Linked DNA regions of Homo sapiens. Each later gene encodes a partner of the first gene's protein in a complex. Each region holds a gene or a part of one and is shown in the gene's direction. Other genes may lie near its edges.

Evidence for each region.
Region 2: SNRPD1 (region 1) and GEMIN5 share a complex: the UniProt entries of both Homo sapiens proteins name them as parts of the SMN-Sm complex.
Region 3: SNRPD1 (region 1) and CRNKL1 share a complex: the UniProt entries of both Homo sapiens proteins name them as parts of the minor spliceosome.
Region 4: SNRPD1 (region 1) and GEMIN2 share a complex: the UniProt entries of both Homo sapiens proteins name them as parts of the SMN-Sm complex.
Region 5: SNRPD1 (region 1) and CRIPT share a complex: the UniProt entries of both Homo sapiens proteins name them as parts of the minor spliceosome.
Region 6: SNRPD1 (region 1) and SNRPG share a complex: the UniProt entries of both Homo sapiens proteins name them as parts of the SMN-Sm complex.
Region 7: SNRPD1 (region 1) and SNRNP200 share a complex: the UniProt entries of both Homo sapiens proteins name them as parts of the U4/U6-U5 tri-snRNP complex.

Annotation. Positions count from the first base shown.
Region 1 is NC_000018.10:21,622,314-21,625,813, forward strand, and holds part of SNRPD1 (small nuclear ribonucleoprotein Sm D1), read left to right. Parts: intron 1-411; coding exon 412-488; intron 489-1,434; coding exon 1,435-1,626; intron 1,627-3,500. UniProt on the Homo sapiens protein: Plays a role in pre-mRNA splicing as a core component of the spliceosomal U1, U2, U4 and U5 small nuclear ribonucleoproteins (snRNPs), the building blocks of the spliceosome.
Region 2 is NC_000005.10:154,890,062-154,893,211, reverse strand, and holds part of GEMIN5 (gem-associated protein 5), read left to right. Parts: intron 1-662; coding exon 663-825; intron 826-1,469; coding exon 1,470-1,971; intron 1,972-3,150. UniProt on the Homo sapiens protein: The SMN complex catalyzes the assembly of small nuclear ribonucleoproteins (snRNPs), the building blocks of the spliceosome, and thereby plays an important role in the splicing of cellular pre-mRNAs.
Region 3 is NC_000020.11:20,042,467-20,045,966, reverse strand, and holds part of CRNKL1 (crooked neck-like protein 1), read left to right. Parts: intron 1-440; exon of another isoform or gene 441-480; coding exon 481-659; intron 660-2,304; coding exon 2,305-2,475; intron 2,476-3,450; coding exon 3,451-3,500. UniProt on the Homo sapiens protein: Involved in pre-mRNA splicing process. As a component of the minor spliceosome, involved in the splicing of U12-type introns in pre-mRNAs.
Region 4 is NC_000014.9:39,131,323-39,134,397, forward strand, and holds part of GEMIN2 (gem-associated protein 2), read left to right. Parts: intron 1-635; coding exon 636-746; intron 747-2,338; coding exon 2,339-2,397; intron 2,398-3,075. UniProt on the Homo sapiens protein: The SMN complex catalyzes the assembly of small nuclear ribonucleoproteins (snRNPs), the building blocks of the spliceosome, and thereby plays an important role in the splicing of cellular pre-mRNAs.
Region 5 is NC_000002.12:46,620,215-46,623,714, forward strand, and holds part of CRIPT (cysteine-rich PDZ-binding protein), read left to right. Parts: intron 1-3,500. UniProt on the Homo sapiens protein: As a component of the minor spliceosome, involved in the splicing of U12-type introns in pre-mRNAs. Involved in the cytoskeletal anchoring of DLG4 in excitatory synapses.
Region 6 is NC_000002.12:70,287,241-70,290,740, reverse strand, and holds part of SNRPG (small nuclear ribonucleoprotein G), read left to right. Parts: intron 1-1,368; coding exon 1,369-1,391; intron 1,392-2,548; coding exon 2,549-2,673; intron 2,674-3,369; coding exon of another isoform or gene 3,370-3,480; exon of another isoform or gene 3,481-3,500. UniProt on the Homo sapiens protein: Plays a role in pre-mRNA splicing as a core component of the spliceosomal U1, U2, U4 and U5 small nuclear ribonucleoproteins (snRNPs), the building blocks of the spliceosome.
Region 7 is NC_000002.12:96,288,547-96,292,046, reverse strand, and holds part of SNRNP200 (U5 small nuclear ribonucleoprotein 200 kDa helicase), read left to right. Parts: intron 1-146; coding exon 147-296; intron 297-544; coding exon 545-655; intron 656-1,231; coding exon 1,232-1,363; intron 1,364-1,532; coding exon 1,533-1,721; intron 1,722-2,050; coding exon 2,051-2,248; intron 2,249-2,667; coding exon 2,668-2,820; intron 2,821-2,929; coding exon 2,930-3,010; intron 3,011-3,300; coding exon 3,301-3,384; intron 3,385-3,500. UniProt on the Homo sapiens protein: Catalyzes the ATP-dependent unwinding of U4/U6 RNA duplices, an essential step in the assembly of a catalytically active spliceosome. Plays a role in pre-mRNA splicing as a core component of precatalytic, catalytic and postcatalytic spliceosomal complexes.

The DNA of each region.
Region 1 (3,500 bases):
TATTTTTTAGTAGAGACGGGGTTTCACCATGTTAGCCAGGATGATCTCGATCTCCTGACCTCGTGATCCGCCCGCCTTGGCCTCCCAAACTGCTGGAATTATAGGCGTGAGCCACCACGCCTGGCCTATTTCTTTTTCATGGTTTATAATGAGTCTAAGATCTTGTATGTCTGGATTTCAGGTTTGAGAATTAGAAACGTCCAAATGACAGTTTATGTTAGTATTGTTGTGTTCCTTCATAAAGGTTGAGGATATAATTCAGGAAAGCTGAAATTGTTATGCAGATTATTGATAGGAATTGATGCAGATAGCATCTAGCAAATTTTCAACATCGAGTTGTTTCACCCTTTCACCTTAATAAATGTGATTTTAAAGTGTTACAGGTAAAAATGGTTTTATTCCTATTTATAGATTTTTGATGAAATTGAGTCATGAAACTGTAACCATTGAATTGAAGAACGGAACACAGGTCCATGGAACAATCACAGGTACGGAGGTTGGACTGCTTTTATAACATTTTTTTTCTTCTCTTTTACCTAGCCAGAGTTTATTTTTTTATTGCTTAATGAACATTATTGTAGTACAAATCCTTATTTTTTTTGTCTGAATTATGTAATTTTTTTTTTTTTTTTTTAAACAGTTTTGCTCTGTCACCTGGGCCGGAGTGCAGTGGCACGATCTCAGCTCACTGCAACATCCGCCGCCTGGGGTCAAGCAATTCTCCTGTCTCAGCCTCCCAAGTAGCTGGGACTACAGGTGCCTGCCACCATGCCCGGGTAAATTTTTTTTTTAGACGGATTCTCACTCTGTTACCCAGGCTGGAGTGCAGTGGCACAATCTCAGGTCACTACAACCTCTGCCTCCCGGGTCCGGGTTGAAGCAATTCTCCTGCCTCAGCCTCCCAAGTAGCTGGGGTTATGGGTGCGTGCCACCACACCCAGCTAATTTTTTATATTTTTGGTAGAGACGGGGTTTCATCATGTTGGCCAGGTTGGTCTCGAACTCCTGACCTCATGATCCATCTTAACAAAAGCAGTAACAATTCTTATATACAGAGAGAAGCAGAAACAAAGGTGAGGATAGTTTGGTGGAATGGGGATTATGAGGAAGTTACAAAGACAGTGGGAGAAACATGAAAGAAATACCTGTCACATCAGTAGTGAGCCTAAAGCCCAGTCAGGGTTCTTCCATGGCTTGCTGCATTCACTTCTGTAAGCAAAACATTAGTGTGCTAGGAAAAATCTCTAGGAAGGAAACACTGCTGACATTCCCCCATTTACCAGTTGCACATGTGCTAAATTGTGTCATAGAAAACTTGCACTTTGTAGAAGAACAGTAATCTTTTGTAGTCCAGTATTTACTGTGGCTCAGTAGATTAATTAGTTGCCTTAACTTGTATCATACTAATAACTGCACAATTATTTTCCTCTTTAGGTGTGGATGTCAGCATGAATACACATCTTAAAGCTGTGAAAATGACCCTGAAGAACAGAGAACCTGTACAGCTGGAAACGCTGAGTATTCGAGGAAATAACATTCGGTATTTTATTCTACCAGACAGTTTACCTCTGGATACACTACTTGTGGATGTTGAACCTAAGGTGAAATCTAAGAAAAGGGAAGCTGGTAAGTTTGAAGGATTATAAACATTTTTGTGAATGCTAATCCTAATCCACACTATTCATAATATAGATATTATTTGCAAACAACACAAGTGTCTTTGTTGTTTAATATTTCCTATAGTATGTATAGTAATTCTTGGTGTTGCTATTAAAAACATTGAGCAACCGGACGCAGTGGCTCACGCCTATAATCCCAGCACTTTGGGAGGCCAAGGCGGGTGGATCACGAGGTCAGGAGTTCAAGACCAGCCTGGCCAACATGGTGAAGCCTCATCTCTACTAAAAATATAAAACTTAGCTGGGCATGGTGGCGGGTGCCTGTAATCCCAGCTACTCGGGAGGCTGAGGCAGGAGAATCGCTTGAACCCAGTAGGCGGAGGTTGCAGTGAGCCGAGATCTCACCACTGCACTCCAGCCTGGGTGACAGAGCCACTGTCTCAAAAAAAAAAAAAACCAAACAACAAATATCGATGTGGTCGGGCAGGGTGGCTCACACCTGTAATCCCAGCACTTTGGGAGGCCAAGGTGGGCAGATCACCTGAGGCCAGGAGTTCCAGACCAGCCTGGTCAACATGGCGAAACCCCCTCTCTACTAAAAATGCAAAAAAAATCAGGCGTGGTGGTGCGTGCCTTTAGTCCCAGTTACTCGGGAGGTTGAGGCAGACGAATCACTTGAACCTGGGAGGTGGAGGTTGCTGTGAGCCAAGATCACGCCACTGCACTCCAGCCTGGGCTACAGAGTGAGACTTTGTCTCAAAAAAAAAAAATATATATATATATATATGATTGTAATCCATAGCTTGAAAAACAATGATTTAATCTCTCTCTCGGTCCTTTATCTCATGCTGCTTTCCACTTTAAAAAAACCCCCTGTGGGTACCAAAATCTACAGATTCTTAAGTCCCTTTTCATAAAATGGTAGTAGTGTTTCAGTGCACATCCTTTTGTACCCTTTAAATCATCTCTAGATTACTTGTAATACCTAGTATAATGTAAATGCTCTGTAGATAGTTATACTGTATTGTTTAGGCGTTAATGACAAGAAAAAGTCTGTATGTGTTTAGTACAGATACAACCATCATAGGCCTAAACTACATTTTTGATCCTCAGTTGGTTAAATCCATGGATGTGCAACCCATGGATATTGAAGGCTGGCTGTATTTTCAAATCTGAGGATGTTTTGCTTTAATGTCGTTAGGGTTATTCTACATTTTTTTTTTTACTACCTACCTACCTGTCGGGGAATTGATGATTGAAAGCCCCCCGCCTCATATCATCTTACTCCACGCTTCTGAATCTTAGATTTTTCAGAAGTTATTCTTCCTTTACTAAATGTTACAGTTCCCAGTCTACTTTCTATTTAAAATTTTGTTGAAAAAAATTTTTTTTTTTTTTTTTGAGATGGAGTTTCGCTCTTGTTAGCCAAGCTGGAGTGCAGTGGCAGGATCTCAGCTCACTGCAACCTCTGCCTCCTGGGTTCAAGCGATTCTTCTGTTTCAGCCTCCCAAGTAGCTGGGATTATAGGTGTGTGCCACCACACCCAGCTAATTTTGTATTTTTAGTAGAGGTGGGGTTTCATCCTGTTGGTCAGGCTGGTCTCATACCCCTGACCTCAAGTGATCCACCCGCCTCGGCCTTCCAAAGTGCTGGGATTACAGGCAGGAACCACCGCGCCCAGCCGAAATCTTTTTTTGAGATGGACTCTCACTCTGTCGCCCAGGCTGGAGTGCAGTGGCGCGATCTCGGCTCACTGCAAGCTCCGCTTCCCGGGTTCACACCATTGTCCTGCCTCTGCCTCTCCAGTAGCTGGGACCACAGGCGCCTGCAACCACGCCCGGCTAATTTTTTGTATTTTTAGTAGAGACGGGGTTTCACCGT
Region 2 (3,150 bases), on another chromosome or scaffold:
CAAAGTGATGGGGTTATAGGTGTGAGCAACTGCACCCAGCCTTTATTTTGTTTTTAATTACAGCTTTTAGTTCCAGAAACTCACTTTTTGTTTTTGTTGTTTGTTTGTTTGTTTTGAGAGGGAGTCTCACTCTCATGCTCAGACTGGAGTGCAGTGGCGCAATCTCAGCTCACCACAACCTCCACCTTCCGGGTTCAAGCAATTCTTCTGTCTCAGCCTCCCGAGTAGCTGGGACTACAGGCACGCGCCATCATGCCTGGCTAATTTTTGTGTTTTTAGTAGAGGCGGGGTTTCACCATGTTGGCCAGGCTGGTCTTGAACTCCTGACCTTGTGATCTGCCCACCTTGGCCTCCCAAAGTGCTGGGATTACAGGCATGAGCCACCGCGCCTGGCCCACTTTTTGTTTTAATTAAATGCAAATGTAAAGGTGTTTTCTCAGTGTGAACAGACTTTAACACCGGGACGTGTGTGTGCTGCTGTGCAACTAGACATGAGAGTTTCCGATGTGGGAAGCAAAAATGGGTGGCGGAGACAAGAGGAACTTTCAAAGTGTGAATTGTGTGTACTTGTTTCCAAATGCGGTTCACAGGAACAGTTTGGTGGCATCCTCTGCGCCTACCGTGGGAGGATGTTTAACTCAGACTCTGGCTTCTCTCTCCAGCTCCTGCTTCACATTTGCCATGACTTGACCCTGGCAGTGCTGAGCCAACAGATGGCCTCCTGGGACGAGGCTGTGCAGGCGCTCCTTCGGGCGGTGGTCCGGAGCTATGACTCAGGGAGCTTCACCATCATGCAGGAAGTGTACTCAGCCTTTCTCCCTGACGGTAAGTGACTTCCTGCTGCCTGAGGCACACCCTTTAATGGACAACATCACCACCATTAGTGGTGTGGCACTGGGAGTACCTAGATTCTTAAAAGATGGAGATTGGCCAGCTGTGTCATTTTAGTAGAAAGTTTGGATTCTCTTACCGAAGCTTTTAAGAACAACTATACTGTTTCCTTTACCTGGCCCTACCCTCTTACAGCCTCCTGTCCACTTTCCACAAAGTTTAAGGGAGAGAGAAATAGGAATGTAGTTACATGTTAGTAAGAACAGAAAAGAACAGCAAAAAAGATAGACATTCCTTGGGCTGCATAGTCAGTCACTGAACTAAATCATTGTGATTTTTCAGAGAGACAGTGTGATCTGTTGTCGTGGCCCCAGAGCCTTCAGTAGTACAAATGGAATACTCTATCATGCTTTGAATGACTCCTAGGATGTAGTAATGAGAACACTGTCGCAAGCCAGGAAATGTTTAGCCTCCAGTTGGCTCTTGGTGGAAAGGCATGTGGCCCGGTGGATCACACTGTTGTCCTTTTTCCTGGGGTCTGCTTCTTGGTTGATAAGAAATAGAACATAAGGGCAGGAAGCCACATTTCTGGCAACTAGAGAAATGCATGACCCAGTATCTTTTTCCTCTTTTCCTAGGCTGTGACCACCTAAGAGACAAGTTGGGGGACCATCAATCCCCTGCCACACCAGCTTTCAAAAGTTTGGAGGCCTTTTTTCTTTATGGGCGTCTGTATGAATTCTGGTGGTCTCTCTCCAGACCTTGCCCAAATTCCAGTGTCTGGGTAAGGGCTGGTCACAGAACACTCTCTGTTGAGCCAAGCCAGCAGTTAGACACTGCCAGCACTGAAGAAACGGACCCTGAAACTTCTCAGCCAGAGCCAAACAGGCCTTCAGAACTAGACTTGAGACTCACAGAAGAAGGTGAGCGAATGCTGAGTACTTTTAAGGAGCTCTTTTCAGAAAAGCATGCCAGTCTCCAAAACTCACAGAGAACTGTTGCTGAAGTCCAAGAGACCTTGGCAGAAATGATCCGACAACACCAAAAGAGTCAACTCTGTAAATCCACAGCAAATGGTCCTGATAAGAATGAACCGGAAGTAGAAGCAGAGCAGCCCCTCTGCAGTTCTCAGAGCCAGTGGTAAGTACTGAGGCAAGTACAAGACGGAATGAAAAATGACCCTGCTGGCTAGGAACAGTGGTTCATGCCTATAATCCCAGCACTTTGGGAGGCTGAAGCAGGAGGATCACTTGGCCCAGGAGTTCACCACCAGCCCGGGCAAAAAAGCGAGACCCTGTCTCTACAAAAAAAAAAAAAAAAAAAAAGCCCGGGCACAGTGGATCACGCTTGTAATCCCAGCACTTTGGGAGGCCGAGGTGGGCAGATCACTTGAAGTAAGGAGTTTGAGACCAGCCTGGCCAACATGGTGAAACCCCGTCTCTACTAAAAATTAGCTGGGTATGGTGGCACATGCCTGTAATTCCAGCTACTTGGGGGGCTGAGGCCAGAGAATCGTTTGAACCTGGGCAGCAGAGGTTGCAGTGAGTCAAAATCGCACCAGTGCACTCCAGCCTGGGCAACAGAGGGAGACTTCATCTCAAAAAATACAAATAAAGTAACCAGGTGTGGTGGCATGTACCCTGTAGCTACTTAGGAGGCTGAGGCAGGAGGATCACTTGAGGCCAGGAGCTCAAGTTCAGCCTGGGCTACATATTGAGACCCTGTCTCTAGAAAAATTAATTTTTTTAAATTAGCCAGTAGTGGTGGCATGCACTTGTAGTCCCAGCTACTCAGGAGGCTGAGGTGGGAGGATCACTTAAGCCCAGGAGTTCGAGGCTGTAGTGAGATACGATCATGCCACTCATACCAGCCTGGTTGACAGACCCTGTCTCTACAAAAAAAAAAAAAAAAAATTAAATTTTAAGAAGCCAGGTGACAAAGGAATTTTATTTATAAAATGAGATAAAAGTAACCCAGGCAGGGGCATATGCTCTCAGGGCCTCCTGAGGGCTGTGTCATAGGCAAAAGTTTAAATTTTTAAAAAATATTAAAAATAAAAGGTAAAAGCTACCCAGGCATAACAAAAGATAATCCAATTCAAGGATGGGCAAAGGACTTGAATAGACATTTCTCTAAAAAGCCAGTAAGCACAGGAAATGATGCTCAACATCTCATCATTGGGGAAATGCAAATCAAAACTACAGTGAAGCAGCACTTCATAGCCATTAGGCTACTATCAGAGAAACAGAACAAGTGTTGAGGAGGATGCAGAGACATTGGAACCCTTGTGCCTATTGGTGGGAATGTAAAATGATGCAG
Region 3 (3,500 bases), on another chromosome or scaffold:
GCTATTTAATGACCAGACCATTATTGACCGCTTACGGTGCCATGTTCTTTTGGCTAGAAACTGTGCTAAGGGCTTTACATACATTTTCTCATTTAAAGCTGGCAGTAATCCAGTGAGGCTGGCATTATTTTTCCCTGTTTACAAATGAAACAGCTGAGACTTAGACGTCTAAGTTCAGTGACTTATCCAAGATCACATGGTTGGTAACCTGGGTTGAGATTTTTCTTTGCTTCCAACTCGAGTTTATACCCACCACTAAAATCTTAACTAAGCACTGGAGGAAAATAGAGATGAACAGGCGTGGCCCTGCTCTCACAGAAGCCACTGTTTAATTCTACACTTTTGTATGTGTTTTGTTCCCCTAGAGTTGTAGTTTGAATTTTTGGAGTTTCCAGGCTTTGGTATGGTTTTGGTGTTTACTTACTTACTATTTTTTTAAGCCATGCTGTTTTGCCTGGGATTTCCTTAATTCCCTTGCACTTGTCCTCGTGCACCCTGATGTTAAGAACTGGATCAAGTATGCCCGCTTTGAAGAAAAACATGCTTATTTTGCCCATGCACGGAAAGTGTATGAGAGAGCTGTGGAATTCTTTGGAGATGAACATATGGATGAGCACCTTTATGTTGCCTTTGCCAAGTTTGAAGAAAATCAGAAAGAGGTAAGTATACCTAACTTCATTATACTGTAAAACAGCTTAGCAAAGATTACATTTTGTGCATGGTGAGTTCATTTCCATTTTTTCTTACTGACATATCCCTGGAAAGATGTTTTCAAAATACAAAAACACAGCTTCTCACAGAGAACAGCATATATATGTGACTAAGCTACAGATGGGAGCTGATTATAGATTGTATTATAACTGTCTTAATTTTATTGTGCTTTGTTTGAAAATTAAGCCTTTTAGTCTGAATGCCCGTAAACTGAGAACTAGTCTTTTGGCATCCTAAGTAAAGGACTTAACCGATAATAAATATGGGAAACAAAAAGCTTAAAGCCCTAGAACAGAAAACATTTAGAATGGAAACAGAGATTGCCCTACAAATAAGAGAGTTCTTTTTTTCCCTTGTACCTATGAAAATAGCTCAAATATTGAGAAGATGAGGCAGAAGGATCACTTGAGGCCAGGAGTTTGAGACCAGCCTGGGCAACATAGTGAGACCCTGTCTCTAAAAAAAAAAATTGAGTGGGCATAGTGGTGCACACCTACAGTCCCAGCTACTTGGGAAGCTGAGGCAGGAGTATCACTTGAGCCTAGGAGTTTGAGACTACAATGAGCTATGTTCGTGCCATTGCACTCTAGCCTGGGTGACAGAGCAGGACCCCATTTCTTAAAAAAAAAGGGAGTTCAAATAATACAGAATTGAGATCCATCCAAATACAGGTTTGAGCATTCCCAGTCTGAAAATCCAAAACTCAAAATGTGAAACTTGTTGAGTGCTGACATGACACTCGAAGGAAATGTTCATTGGAACATTTCAGACTTCGGGTTTTTGGATTAGGGATGCTGAACCAGTAAGTATAATGCAAATATTCCCAAACTGGGGAAACATCCCAAATCCAAAACACTTCTGATACCAAATGCTTCAGACAAGAGATACTCAACCTATATAAGGTCTTGCACGGACCATGCTAGGGAGTTCAGATTCTGTTCGGGCCAGTGGGAAGCATTGAAAGGTTTTAAGCGGGACAGTGATTGGATATGATTTATATTTTAAGGAGAGCCTCTGGCTAATTCATGGAGAATGTATGAGGGTAGATGGCAAAAGTGGAACCAGGGGAGACCAGTGGGGAGACTTTTGAAGTGGGCCAGGTGAACAGTGGAGTTTGATGGCTGGGGGCTGGGGAGAAGCAAATGGCTGTGTGGAAGAGATTGAAATGGTAGGGCATGTTGCAAGAGTGAATATGGAGTATGAGGAAAAAAGAGGAATTGAGGATCACCTGAAGGTTTTGGCTTGAGCAAGTGACTGTAGGTTAGGCCTTGCCTACTAAAATTGGGAAGATGGGGAGAGTCCCAGTTTGAGTGGGGAGGAAACAGAAGCTCAGTTTTGGACCTGTTTGAGATGTGCAGTAGACATCCAGTTGGCAGTGTTAGGTAGACAGTATTAAATATGGAGCTCAAAGCAGAGTACCGGTCCATCCTGACAGAGATAACCTTCAACAAGAGGGAGAAAAGCATCTTACTCTGGATATTATGAGGCCTCAAAATCTAACTTATAAGTAATATTTTGTTATATTTACTCTCCTAGTTGTGACTGGCATGAGAATATTGTGTTATAGAAGGTAATCATCCTGTCTGCATTTAGTTTGAAAGGGTACGAGTGATTTACAAGTATGCCCTGGACAGAATTTCAAAACAAGATGCCCAAGAACTCTTTAAAAATTATACCATCTTTGAGAAGAAGTTTGGTGATAGGCGGGGTATTGAAGATATCATTGTGAGCAAACGGAGATTCCAGTACGAAGAAGAAGTGAAGGTGAGCACTGGTGTGGATGGTCAACTCTGCAGATAACCCAAGATGTGCTCATCAATACTAGCAACACTAAAATGAATAATAGCAAGTAGCACTACTAGTGATTACTCTCGTGATGATGTGCCCGTGATCCAATTGGCAGCTATTTCAGACAAGTAGGAATAAACAAGGCTGATAGAAAAGGCAAGCAAACAACACTTGGATTTGCTCTGCCACTTACATGTTGTAAGTCGTTTTGTTGATTGTTGACTGTATGTAGAACTGGAGCAAAAGAAATGTGGAATCCATTCGAGCTCATTGTTGGAAGAAGGTGGAAGAGTCAGAGATTGGTCCAAAAACCTGTTTTGCACATCACCTTTGAGCTTAACTGCCTGAACAAAAGATGTATGCTAGACAGGGTTCCATCGGCATCTCTTTTTCTGTAATGTACTATTTTGATTTCAATTCAAAGAGAGTGTCATTTTCCTTCAGTATTCTGTTGTGTATTTAAAAATACTCTTCCTTAGTCAAGTTAATTAAGATACCTCCAAGCAAAGGACTAAGTCTGTTATTAAATGTGGTGGTAGGTTAGCAAGATATGTTAAAGATGAATTGCTATTAATTGGAAAGGCAAGTTTAACAATTGTGAGCATGATACGATTCTGTTGTTACAGACATAATGATACATAGTCACATATTTAAGCAAATGCATTGGCAAGAATAGGCATCTAATTATTGACTGTCGTGAGAGTGATGGCTATAGATGAAGGAGTCCTTGCTGTGGGACACCTGGCCAGTAATCTATCCTCTGTATTCCTGTTTCTTTTCTATTTATGCAGTCTCAGGGATGGTGTTTTTAAAATGAAAGAACATGTAACATTTAGAAGAAAAGGTGCTAAAATATAGAAAGTCAGCCTGATGCCTTTTTTCAGCTTGCTTAACCTGGCAAGTGCAGCTCTTGGTTTTGTTTTTTATTTATTAAACTGGTTGTCTTTCTAGGCGAATCCACACAATTATGATGCATGGTTTGATTACTTGCGCTTGGTAGA
Region 4 (3,075 bases), on another chromosome or scaffold:
AATAGGAAAAACAAGAACATTTTTAAAGTGAATCAAAGTTTGATCTGGAATGTTGGGACTGCAGGTTTTTTCTTGTGCTTGTGGTATTCTTCACAGTTTTTCTGCATCAAATATGTATTCATTTTGTAGCTGAAAACCCCATTTTAAAAGGGAGTGGGGATACATTGAGCCTGTCAAAGTATTTATAAAAGTGTCAAAAGATTATTTCATCTGTAGTATAGTTTCTTTGTATGTCCCCAGAGGACAAAATTATACAATTATAAAATGATTTCTATATCTGTCCATACAGAACAAAGAAAAAAATGTATCTTAATTTTTTCCAGTATTTATATTCATCTTAATGTAGTGTTCTGCTTACAAATGAGAACTTCCTATCATAAGAATATCTGAAACAAACTCTTTGGAGATCAGGGAATATTTTGAGGTATCCAATGTCCTGTGTCTGTAATTATAGGATACAAGAGATAACACCTGGCTCTCCAAATGAGGCTTTCTTGTCTATACCCAAACATAATATAGTTAAATGTTCTATGAATTTATTCATAGCAGATAATCAGGCATAACATTGGACATTTAAAAAATAAACTTCTGGTTCAGTATTTGTCTAAATATTAATTTTTTGAATTTTTTTTTAGGGAAGATGGCTTTATGCTTTATTGGCTTGTCTTGAAAAGCCTTTGTTACCTGAGGCTCATTCACTGATTCGGCAGCTTGCAAGAAGGTGCTCTGAAGTGAGGCTCTTAGTGGTAAGTTGCAACTTACTGTTTAAAATTAAAAGCACCCACCAATTTATATGGTGGTAAAGAAGGAGTTCAGTGAAATAGGAAAACACATGGAATATTTTATTGGTGGCAATTAGATTTGTAAAGCCCAAAATAATAGTAGCTTAAATAATATGGAAATGTTTTCTGAGATAAAGAAGTCTGAGCCGGGCGTGGTGGCTCACACCTATAATCCCAGCACTTTGGGAGGCTGAGGCGGGTGGCTCACCTGAGGTCAGGAGTTTGAGACCAACCTGGCCCACATGGTGAAACCCCGTCTCTACTAAAAATACAAAATTTAGCTGGGTGTGGTGGTGGGTGCTTGTCATCCCAGCTACTCAGGAGGCTGAGGCAGGAGAATCGTTCGAACCCAGGAGGCGGAGGTTGCAGTGAGCTGAGATTGCACCACTGCACTCCTGCCTGGGCAACAGAGCAAGACTCTGTCTCAAAAAAGAAGTAGGTAAAAAAATTAGATTTTTACTAAGATGGCAGTAACCCACCCACACCTTTGAGTTTTGTCATATGTGGCTTTCATCCTCATGCTCATCTTATGATCCAAGATGGCTGCTGTAGCTTCAGCCTTTTTTTTTTTTTTTTTTTTTTCTTTTATTGTGAGATGGAGTCTCGCTCTGTCACCGAGGCTGGAGTGCAATGGTGCGGTCTCGGCTCACTGCAACCTCCGCTTCCCAGGTTCAAGCAATTCTCCTGCCTTAGCCTCCAGAGTAGCTGAGATTACAGGTGCCCGCCACCATGCCTGGCTAATTTTTGTATTTTTAGTAGAGACAGGGTTTCACCATGTTGGCCAGACTGGTCTCAAACTGCTGACTTCAAGTGATCCACCTGCCTCAGCCTCCCAAAGTGCTGGGATTACAGGCATGAGCTACTGCACCTGGTGTGTGTGTGTGTGTGTGTGTGTGTATATATATGTGTGTGTGTGTGTGTGTATATATATATATCTTTATATATATATCTTTATATAATTCAGTAATGAATATATATAAGAACAGTAAGAATCCTGTGTCTTGACTGTACAGTGATTAATATATATTATATATATTCATATATATTCTATATATATCCTCACATATATTGTATGCATTATATAGAGGAACAATAAGAATCCTGTGTCTTGACTACAGTGATAAATATATTTATTCATATATGTATATTAATATATATTTATTATATATGAATACATATTCACTACAGTTAAGACACATATATAATATATATGAATATATATATATATATTCATCACTGTACAGTTAAGACACAGGATTCTTATTGTTCCTTTAGTAGGAACCAGGGAAAAATTTCCCCCAAGTTATCCCCCTTAGATCCCTCTTTATTTTTTTTTCCCTATTCAGAATCTTTATTTAAAAGATAGTCTTAGATGTTTCTCAAGGAATCATTAACTCTACAGTTCTCTGCTTTTTCTTTGAGGGCTCCTATTTCCACATGATGATTACTGTCATATAATAAAGTTTTCATGTTTCGTGTTTTACATCTTAATAGAAAATTTATTTCAAAAGTAATAGGAACAGACAATATTTAAATTTTTCTTTTTTTTTTTTTAGGATAGCAAAGATGATGAGAGGGTTCCTGCTTTGAATTTATTAATCTGCTTGGTTAGCAGGTATAGTTAATCCTTGGCTTCTTTATTATTTATCAGTGAGGTCAGTGAGGTTAGATCGTATTTATTACATTTGGTTTTTGTTTGGTTGGTTTTTTTTTGAGTCTCACTCTGTTGCTATAGTTAGGGTGCAGTGGCGCAATCACAGCTCACTAGAGCTTTAACTTCCTGGGCTCCAGCAATCCTCCCACCTCAGCCTCCTGAGTAGCTAGGACCACAACCAAGCACCACCACACCTGGCTAATTAAAAAAAATTGTTCGTAGAGACAGGGTCTCACTATGTTGCCCAGGCTGGTCTCAAAACTCCTGGGCTCAAGCGATCCTCCCACCTAAGCCTCCGAAAGTGCAGGGATTACAGGTGTAAAGCCACTGCATTCAGCCTGCATTTTTGTTTAATTGCCTGTGTCCTGCGTTCATTTTCAGTTGTGGCATATTTTTATTTAGTATCTGTTTTATTTCATTTCTTACATAGAAATTCTTCTTGGAATTTATTTGAAAACTTTTTTTGTTGTTTTGTTTTGAGACAGAGTCTCGCTCTGTTGCCCAGGCTGGAGTGCAATGGCACCATCTCGGCTCACTACAACCTTCACCTCCTGGGTTCAAGCAATTCTCCCCCCTCAGCCTCCCAAGTAGCTGGGCTTACAGGCACCTGCCATCATGCCCGGCTAATTTTTGTAATTT
Region 5 (3,500 bases), on another chromosome or scaffold:
AAGGCAGACAGATTATCTGAGCCCAGGAGTTTGAGAGCAGCCTGGGCAACATGTGAAACCCTGTCCTACAAAGGACAGAAAAATTAACTGGGTGTGGCAGCACGCGCCTGTAGTCCCAGCTACTCAGGAGGCAGACGTGGGAGGATCACTTGATCCCAGGGAGGTCAAGGCTGCAGTGAGCCAGGATCGCACTACTGATCTCCAGCCTGGGTTGACAGAGTGAGAGTCTCTTTCAGAAAAAAAATTTCGTGAACCCTTTCATCTGCCATCTGATTTCTTTGCTCCCCTTCACATCAGAAGTTTTCCAAAGTCTTACCTAGACACTTTTTCAGTGTCCTTAAGTTCCTTTCCCTCCTTCAGCCACTCTAGTCATGTGTTATCCCCACAACAGCCCTGAAACTGTTCTTGTCGAGATCACAAGTGACCTTTTAGAGTGACTTCAATCTACTGGCTTTAAATTCAAGCTATATGTTATATATATATATATGTAATAATATTATTATATATATATTATAATATTATTATATATATATAACTCCCAAATTTATACCTCTGGCCTGACTTCTCTGAGCTCTAAACGTATATCTAGCAGTTTATCTGACATACCTCATTTAATGTCTAACAGGCCACTTCTTTTTCCTTCCGTCTTCTCATCATAGTAGCACCACTCTCTAATCCACTTGTTCAAGCCTAAAAGCTAGAATTCCTCACTGAGTCCTCCCTTTCCCCTACTTCCCCTATCCATCAGCAAGTTCTTTGGATCTACCTCCAAAACGTAAAATGTAACCTGAAACCACCTGCTTCTGTACATCTCACTGCTATTACCCTTTTCCAAACCACTGTTATTTCTTACTTGGAACTGTAATAACTATTGAACTATCTTCCTGCTTCTCTAGTTTCCCGCAGTTGTCTCATAGTAACGAGAGTGATCCTTTACAAAGTTCCTTTGCTTAAAATCCGCCACTGGTTTTCTTTTTCACATAGAATAAAATTTAAGCCCCCTACCATGTTCTTACAAGGTCCTCCTTAATATGACCCCTCCCACCTCTCCGGCTTCGTATTGTACCACACTGCTCCTCATTCATCATATGCTGTCTTTATTAGTTCTGCCAAGCCCACTCCCATCCAAAGAGATTTGTACTTGCTGCTGTCTCCTAGGAGTCTTCCGTTAGAGCTTACGTATCTGCCTCCTTCTTGCTGTTTGGGTCTCAGCTTCAGAGAAGTTTCCCTAATCAGCATCTAAACTAATCTCTTCTTTCCTTTTCCTCATCTCTGCCTTAGTATCCTGTTAGAATTTTCTCTATAATACTACTATTTGAAAACCTTGCTTGTTTTATTAGATTGTCTGTTTCCTTACTTACTGTTTACCTCTTCTCACTACAATATTATCTGATGAGGGCAAGGGCTTTGCCTATCATGTTCATCTTTGGTATTTAGAACAGTAAATACCATGTAATATTAAGCACTCAGTATATATTTGCTGAATGAATAAATACCTGTTTTCTGATGTCATCCCAAGGATTAGAAATAACAACAATAAAGCCTTAACTACATACAGTGCCTAGCACATAATAGCATCTTTAATGCAGATTCACACTATATATTATTGACTGACTTATTGAGGTCTTTGAGAACCATTCTGTTTTTATTGACTGAGCTATTATTTGTACAGATTTTATGCTTTTATATACTTCCAGTTCCTTTATGCTCTCAAACTTACTCTGATATCATTAAAAAGTAGCTGTAACTCTTGGGTACTCTCTTACTTTGGAAAATGTACTACAGTATTGCTTGGAATCTATGGTACTGTTATTTATAAGATGCATTGTTACTTTAAGAAAAAACTCTGCCAGTTTTAAGATTTCCAAGGTTAGGCCGGGTGCGGTGGCTCACGCCTGTAATCCCAGCACTTTGGGAGGCCGAGGCAGGCGGATCACAAGGTCAGGAGATCGAGACCATCCTGGCTAACATGGTGAAACCCTGTCTCTACTAAAAATACAAAAAAATTAGCCGGGCGTGGTGGCGGTCACCTGTAATCCCAGCTACTCGGGAGGCTGAGGCAGGAGAATGGCATGAACCTACGAGGCAGAGCTTGCAGTGAGCCGAGATTGCGCCACTGCATTCCAGCCTGGGCGACAGAGCGAGACTCCGTCTCAAAAAAAAAAAAAAAAGATTTCCAAGGTTACAATGTGTATTTTTGAATAATAAAATATGGTTTTAAGAAAAAATAGCCTCTGGAAATACATGTCCAAACAAATTGAACTTATTGAAAGGAAGAAGAGTACCTATCTTTTGTGGGGAGTAAAGTGATATTCTCAGCTGGGCGCAGTGGTTCACGCCTGTGATCCCAGCACTTTGGGAGGCCAACGCAGGCGGATCTCCTGAGGTTGGGAGTTCGAGACCAGCCTGACCAACATGGAGAAACCCCATCTCTACTAAAAATACAAAATTAGCCGGGCGTGGTAGCGCATGCCTGTAATCCCAGCTACTTGTGAGGCTGAGACAGGAGAATTGCTTGAACCTGGGAGGCAGAGGTTGCAGTAAGCCAAGATTGCGCCATTGCACTCTAGCCTGGGCGATAGAGTGAGATTCAGTCTCAAAAAAAAAAAAGTGATATTCTCTGTGTTTGGAAAAATTAACCTTTGTAAATGGGCTGTTGTACTATACCCAAGAGAAGACACCAGTTCTAGGACGGTGTTTCGTATCTAGTATATGAGGATCATTACAAAAACTCATTTTGTAAAAATGTTAGGGAAGCACATTTAAATCAGAGTATTATTGCCATTTTAGGGGAAAGTATTTCTTTTTTTCACTCCTGTCACTATAAGATGGCATTTTTATATAGTGGAAGCCCTTTTATCTAAAAGGATTGAGTCAGTTAATTAAAAATGTCAGCTAATGTAAGCAGTCATTAAAAGATACACATACTTTATTTTAAATTAAAGCGCATAACTGTAGATGCATTAATCATTTGGTATTGAAACAAAGCCTTTTGAGCATAAATCGACTGATAAGTGCTTTACATGATTGTCGTCACAAAAATCACAATCAGAATATGTTCAGTTTCTTTAAAGTAGAGCAAAAATTGATGCTTGAGGTGTGGAGTTACTTTCCTAGTGATTTTCCCCCAGTTTTCAACAGTTGTCTTACCCATACCTAATTCAATAGCAATTCATATGATTCCTAGTCATCCTAAAATAGTCACTTAGGTTATATGGAATCAGTCACTCTTTTTGCACCCACATTTCATCAGTTTCCATAATATTTATGTCACACAAATAGAATGACAGATACGACTGATATGAACACGTCAAGAATAAATACTGTACAACTGATTCTTTATAAGTATATATCTCACATGGATGGAGCAGAGCAGAGATGTACAGGCATATCAGACAGTAGCCATCTGGAATAGGCTAAACCCATCAATTGTAGAGGTTGATGGAGGGATGGAGAGCATGGATTAATCCTGTGTGTTGCGTAAGTGGGGTTATTTAAGA
Region 6 (3,500 bases), on another chromosome or scaffold:
GTGCTGGGATTACAAGCATGAGCCACCGCGCCCAGCCCATAAATATATTTTTACTTGTAAATGTATCTACTCCCTCCTTCAGTCATGCTCCTTGTTTTATATTTACATTTTCCCATGATAATCCTATACATTAAAATTGAATAAGTGCCCCACTTCGTGGCCCATATACTAAACATCTTTTTTTCATTTTTTTATATTTTAAAATTTGAATGAAATTTTTAAAATTGAATGAAATTTTATGTTTTCTGGCCTATATGGAAGAAATTAAAAACTGATTTGACTGCATGGCTTAATCTCGTATTCCACTAAAATGGAATTTTTTTTTAATTCATATCGTTTGAAGTTTCAAATGTGCATTTATTATTCTAAAATATACTTAAATGTTGAGGACTACCCTGAACATTTATGCTTGATGCTTTAATATTAAATAAAAGAACACTACTTATTTCAAATATAAAATACCTATTGAATTGGATATGATTTGATTACTGTTTGCTGTCTTTACAACTTAGTTTTGGAAATAACCAAACATAGGCAAGTCTTTGTTTTTCTCTTGTGACTATAAAATCCAGTCATTGAAAATTAGGTCAATGAGACCAGATGTGGTAGCTCATGCCTGTGTAATCCCAGCGGCACTTTGGGAGGCTGAGGGGGAGTATATTTTTCGAGGCCAGGAATTCAGGACCAGCCTGGGCAACATAATGAGACTCCCATCTCTTAAAAAAAAAAAAAAAAAGAAAGAAATTTAGGTCAATGAAACAACGTAGTATTGAACAATAAGAATGTAATTCACATTAGTATACTCTACTTAATGTAAATTAATATAGTCTAAATATGTTTCATTTTTATTGCCTTTCCTCTTCCCAAATTACTTTGCTTCCTAGAATGTCTAATTTAGGTAACCCTTTACGCCCCCACTCTTTTTTTCCCCTGAGACAGTTTCGCTCTATTGCCCAAGCTGGAGTGCAGTGGCGCAATCATGGCTCACTGCAGCCTCAACGTGGCAGGCTCCAGTGATTCTCCGACCTCAGCCTCCCAAGTAGCTGGAACCATAGGCATGTGCCACCACCCCCAGCTAATTTTTGTATTTTTGGTAGAGATGGGGTTTCACCATGTTGCCCAGGCTGGTCTCAACTCCTGAGCTCAAGCAGTCCACCCGCCTCAGCCCCCTAAAGTGCTGGGATTACAGGCGTGAGCTACCTCGCCCTACTCCCTCACTCTTTACAGCAATACATTATTTTTACTATTTTAGATTTCATTATTCCCATTGTATAAATTTTAGCAAATTATCTTAACTATACCTATTTACTTGTTTATGCTTAAATTTTTTTAATTGGTTATATAATCTTTACCCTTTTCCTTTTTCAGATTTATGGACAAGAAGTTATCATGTAAGTTTGTTGTTGTTTTGGGGTTTTTTTTAATTATTTAATTGCTTTTTACATGTGTCTTAGCAATGTTTGGAGCAACTTTATAAAAATTTAAAGCAGCCAGGCGCGATGGCTCACGGCTGTAATCCCAGCACTTTGGGAGGCCGAGGCAGGCGGATCGTGAGATCAGGAGATCAAGACCATCCTGGCTAACACGGTGAAACCCCGTCTCTACTAAAAATACAAAAAAAAATTAGCCGGGTGCAGTGGCGGGCGCCTGTAGTCCCAGTTACTCGGGAGGCTGAGTCAGGAGAATGGCATGAACCCAGGAGGCGGAGTTTGCAGTGAGCCAAGATGGCGGTACTGCACTCCAGCCTGGGCTATAGAGCTAGACTCCGTCTCAAAAAAAAAAAATTTAAAGCACACAGGACCTCTAATTCACATCCGTTAGTTAAGCAGATTACTTAATCCTAACTAGACAATTTTATTTACCTAATTTCTGATAATTAATTTAACAGCACTTCAGACTTTATCTTATGTAAGCCCTTCCTCACTTTGGCAAAATTAACAGGATTTATCAACCTTTTTTCTTTAAACAAGCTACAAAGGACTTAGACAAGGAACAGTTATCTTGTTTCTTGGGAATATGTAGGAATAACATTTGTTCAATTTATCTAAAAATCTGACCCACACAGTACTTGAAATATATGTAGGGGAAAAAACCATGAGCGTTAGAGGTAAGCAGCCTTCAGCTTGAATCTCACTTCTGTCGTACAGTAGCTGTATAACCATGAACCCAGTTACTTAAAAGCTCGGGCACGGTGGTTTACACCTATAATCCCCCAGCACTTTGGGAGGCCAAAGCGGGAGGATCCCTTGAGCCCAGGAGTTCGAGACCAGCCTGGGCAACATAGGGAGCCCCCATCTTTATAAAAATTTTAAAAAAGCTCTGAAGTTTAGTTCTGTCCTATAAAGTAAGGATAATACTACTTTTTAGGATTCTTATAAATTAAAATGTGGAAGTAAATACAAAAATGTTTAACCCAGTTCTTGTCATACAGTAAGGATAGTGGGTTTCAGACATCTCAAATACTTGTGTTTTATCCCACCTGATTTTTAGTGAATGCTTGGTAGCTAATGGAATGTTTTTCTAAAACTTCTTTTTCTCTTTTTAATAGTGAAATTAAATGGTGGCAGACATGTCCAAGGAATATTGCGGGGATTTGATCCCTTTATGAACCTTGTGATAGATGAATGTGTGGAGATGGCGACTAGTGGACAACAGAACAATATTGGAATGGTGGTAAGTAAAGATACAAGAGTTCTCTTGGAGATTTCATTTTTCTTTTGGAATGTGTATTAACTTTCCTGGTTAGTAACCCCCAGAAATGGCAAATAACAGGCAAGATTAGACTTTCCATCTCCTTTTTAGTTGCATACGGCAGTTACTCAGCTGTAGTAATATCCTGGTTACCTGTAGGTAAGATCTCAACTATACAGAACCTAAGGTCCTAGCGCTTGAAATAGCTGTTGGAAATCCTTTTTGAGCTTTATTCTGCAATAGAGGCTCATAGTTGGTCCTTCATTAGAGCAGTAGTTCTGAAACCTTAATGTGTATATGAATCCCCAGGGAATCTTCTTAAAATGAAGATTCTACTTCAGTAGGTATGGGGCAGAACTTAACTAAGGTTTTGCATTTCTACTAATGCCTAATGCAGATCTGCCAGTTCACAGGTAACACTTTCTGATTTTACTTGTATACATAGTTAACCTGGATTTTCTGGTTTACCACACCCAAAATTTTAAGGTAGCCAAGGTAAAAGTTACAAGGGATAATCACAATGACAGTTATTCACATGAGAGAAAAAGCAGGAAAAAATAAGCACATACTGAGCCCTCATAGGATTAAACATTCCTACATTCATTGGGCCGTAGTTTTAGTGATTGCTGAAGAAGAGTTTTGATACCCAGACTTTGAGTCCCTCTTTGTCTAACACAGGACAACATACCTAATAAAGCGGTAAGCCCAAAGTTCTTGAAAAAGGTGAACCAAAAAGGACAACTTACTTTTAGCAAATTATTAAGCATAAAGACCTCCAAGGAGTGGTAAGAGTTGCTAATTATTAGCCT
Region 7 (3,500 bases), on another chromosome or scaffold:
TTCCTCTGAGCCTGCACACATTCCTGCCCTTGCCCCTCTCCAGGACCTTGGCTTCTGGTGGTGATGGTGCAACTTCTGCTTCCTGCTGCAGGTGCCCTGGGGCTGTGAGTATCTCGTGACTGTAGCAAACTGTGGCTTCTCCTTAGGTGCTGGTGTTTGTCCACTCCCGGAAGGAGACTGGAAAGACAGCCAGGGCCATCCGGGACATGTGCCTAGAAAAGGACACTCTGGGTCTGTTTCTGAGGGAGGGCTCAGCCTCCACAGAAGTCCTGCGAACAGAAGCTGAGCAGTGCAAGGTGAGGAGGGGCCAGCTGGGTTCTCTCATTCCTACCTGGCAGCTGTGTCCATCTCAGGCCCCAGACAGCTCCTCTAGGACTGTACTGTGGTATTGTTGTTTCCCATGGGTTAAGGTTGATTGTCTGGATGTGATTATTACTATTCCACATAATAGTTAAGGGGCAGGGTCTCATGGGAGGAGATTTCCTTAGTCCTTGGATGAGTCCTACAGGAAGGCTCGCCTCATCCCCGGTTCTTTGTTCCACAGAACCTAGAGCTGAAGGATCTTCTGCCTTATGGCTTTGCTATTCATCACGCAGGCATGACCAGGGTTGACCGAACACTCGTGGAGGATCTTTTTGCTGATAAACATATTCAGGTGAGGGGGTGCAAAGCGTTTGGAGGAGCAGGTGGGACATACTTCAGAAGATGGGCAATGTCAAGTTTGTGCCATGTTTGCTCCTGGTACTTTATTGCTTCTGGCCCAGCTAGCCCAGGTCAGAGGGTTGTGGTGGACACAATAAATAGAACCTTATGCTACTCTCCCAACTCTTCCCACCTTGCTTGAGTTTAGGATAGTCTGAGAAGCATAGTGAAGCAAGCACTTTGGTGACTTCAGATAGCTCCAAACAGTGTCTCATGGGGGCACGCGTGCCCTTGTCGTTCCCTCTTTCCGGATAGGCTCTGTTTTACCTTTTCTAGTAACTTTAAGGTTGTTTAATACAAGTCTGCACTTGTGCCTCTGGAACCTTGAAATGTTCATTACTGAATAGATGAGGAACCCAAGGAAACCTTTCCTCTTTATTCTGGTGTCACATTGACAAGTACTGGGACCCCACGCGCCCTACCGGCTAGTCCTGAGAGAAGCTCTGAGGCCAACTGCCTAGAGAAGCCAGGGATATTAACCCCTGGTGATGGCATCTGTTCTCCTCATTACCTTGTTTTGCCTCTGTAGGTTTTAGTTTCCACAGCAACTCTAGCTTGGGGTGTGAATCTCCCTGCACATACAGTCATCATCAAAGGCACCCAGGTGTACAGTCCAGAGAAGGGGCGTTGGACAGAACTGGGAGCACTGGACATTCTGCAGGTACAGAGCCTTTTGAGTTTATTCTCAGCAGGGATCAGTATCCTTGCCTGAAATGCAGGGATGCTGGAAAGCTAGCAGATCAGAGGTCTAGTTCTGTAATGTAGATACCTGCATCAAAATTCAGACATTCTCTTGACATAGCATTCTTGGTTCGCTGTCTCTGATCTAGATGCTGGGACGTGCCGGAAGACCCCAGTATGACACCAAGGGTGAAGGCATACTCATCACATCTCATGGGGAGCTACAGTACTACCTGTCCCTCCTCAATCAACAACTTCCTATTGAAAGCCAGATGGTTTCAAAGCTTCCTGACATGCTCAATGCAGAAATCGTGCTAGGAAATGTCCAGAATGCCAAGGTAGGGGAGGACTGCTTGTTGTGCTTCATGCTTTCCCCGCAGACACCAAGGCACCAGGAGTGGGTCGGTCCCTATTGTGCTGCGGGCCAGCAGCGTCCGAGGCCTTCCATCCCTGCACCCACATCTTGGGTCTGGCAGATAGTTCCCCTTGTTACCAAGATCTTAGAAGACGCTTAGATCTTTTTAATAATGAAATGCTAAAAACATTCAGAATACGATGTAATATGCATCCTTGTAGTTGGGAATTAATTTCTAAGCAATTCATGGGAGCCTGTCATTTGGACATCAAGAGTTTCTCCATGCTAAGAACCATGAGCTGTGTCTTGTAGGATGCGGTGAACTGGCTGGGCTATGCCTACCTCTATATCCGAATGCTGCGATCCCCAACCCTCTATGGCATCTCTCATGATGACCTCAAGGGAGATCCCCTGCTGGACCAGCGCCGACTAGATCTGGTTCATACAGCTGCCCTGATGCTGGACAAGAACAATCTGGTCAAGTACGACAAGAAGACGGGCAACTTCCAGGTGCGTGGGGTGAGGGTTTTGAGGCAAAGGTCTCAGCAAAAGTTGTTGGCCCAGGAAAAAATTTTTCAGATTGCTCTCTTGATGTGAGTACTGCCTATCTAATCACCTGTTGCTTAGAACAGCAGAAAAATGGGTAGCTTTTCCCATAACTTGAGGTGGATAATTCAGCTGTCTTGTCCGTGCAGACATCATTTCACTATGGGTCAGCTTATTCTGCTGTTTTTCTTCATGTGCCTGGGCCTGGCACTTGTACTGCTGTGACTTCATCCAGTTGTCCTATTAGGACAATAATGACATTGGGTCATATACTTTACCAAAAAAAAAGTACAAAAAACCTATAGGACAGTAACTTATGGTCCACAGTTAGAGGTTGGAGCTCATTAATAGTCAGCACTGGATTGAGTCTACCTTCTCTCCAGGTGACAGAACTGGGCCGTATAGCCAGCCACTACTACATCACCAATGATACAGTGCAGACTTACAACCAGCTGCTGAAGCCCACCCTGAGTGAGATTGAGCTTTTCAGGGTCTTCTCATTGTCCTCTGAGTTCAAGAACATCACAGTGAGAGAGGTGAGCCTATGCAGCATGATGGGGCGGGGAGTTGGTGCTCACCAAGTCACTGAATGGTGTCCCTCCTCGGCCACAAGGCTTTCCCTTGACCTTTTCCTCCTTGTGGCAGGAGGAGAAGCTGGAGCTGCAGAAGTTGCTGGAGAGGGTGCCTATCCCTGTAAAGGAGAGCATTGAGGAACCCAGTGCTAAGGTGAGCTCCTCTCCTCTTTGCTTTGATAAGGATGAGGATTAAGTGGTTTTCATAATCTTCTAAAAGATGAACCTTGAATTTGGGTTCATGTGTGGTTTCCTGCTCAGTTCTCCTAGTTTTTGCAGCCTTCTCGCATGTTCTTTTTATATGAAATAACAATTATTTAGTATTTGTAAATCAAGACCTGTAGCAAATCTCACCTGGCCTGGATGCTCAGAGCAGAAATGTAATTCCCTTTCTTGGACTGTTCAGTGATTGGTCTCCTGCTGGCTGATTTTGCTTCTTTACAGATCAACGTTCTTCTGCAAGCCTTCATCTCACAGCTGAAATTGGAGGGCTTTGCACTGATGGCTGACATGGTGTATGTCACACAGGTGAGAGCGGAGTTGTATGGCAGCTGTGAGAAGGGGCCTGAACAGTTCAATCCCTGTGTGCTGTGTGCATCCTGGGGAAAGGAGGCCCGACCCTAGTGAGATGGGAGGAGTGCTTA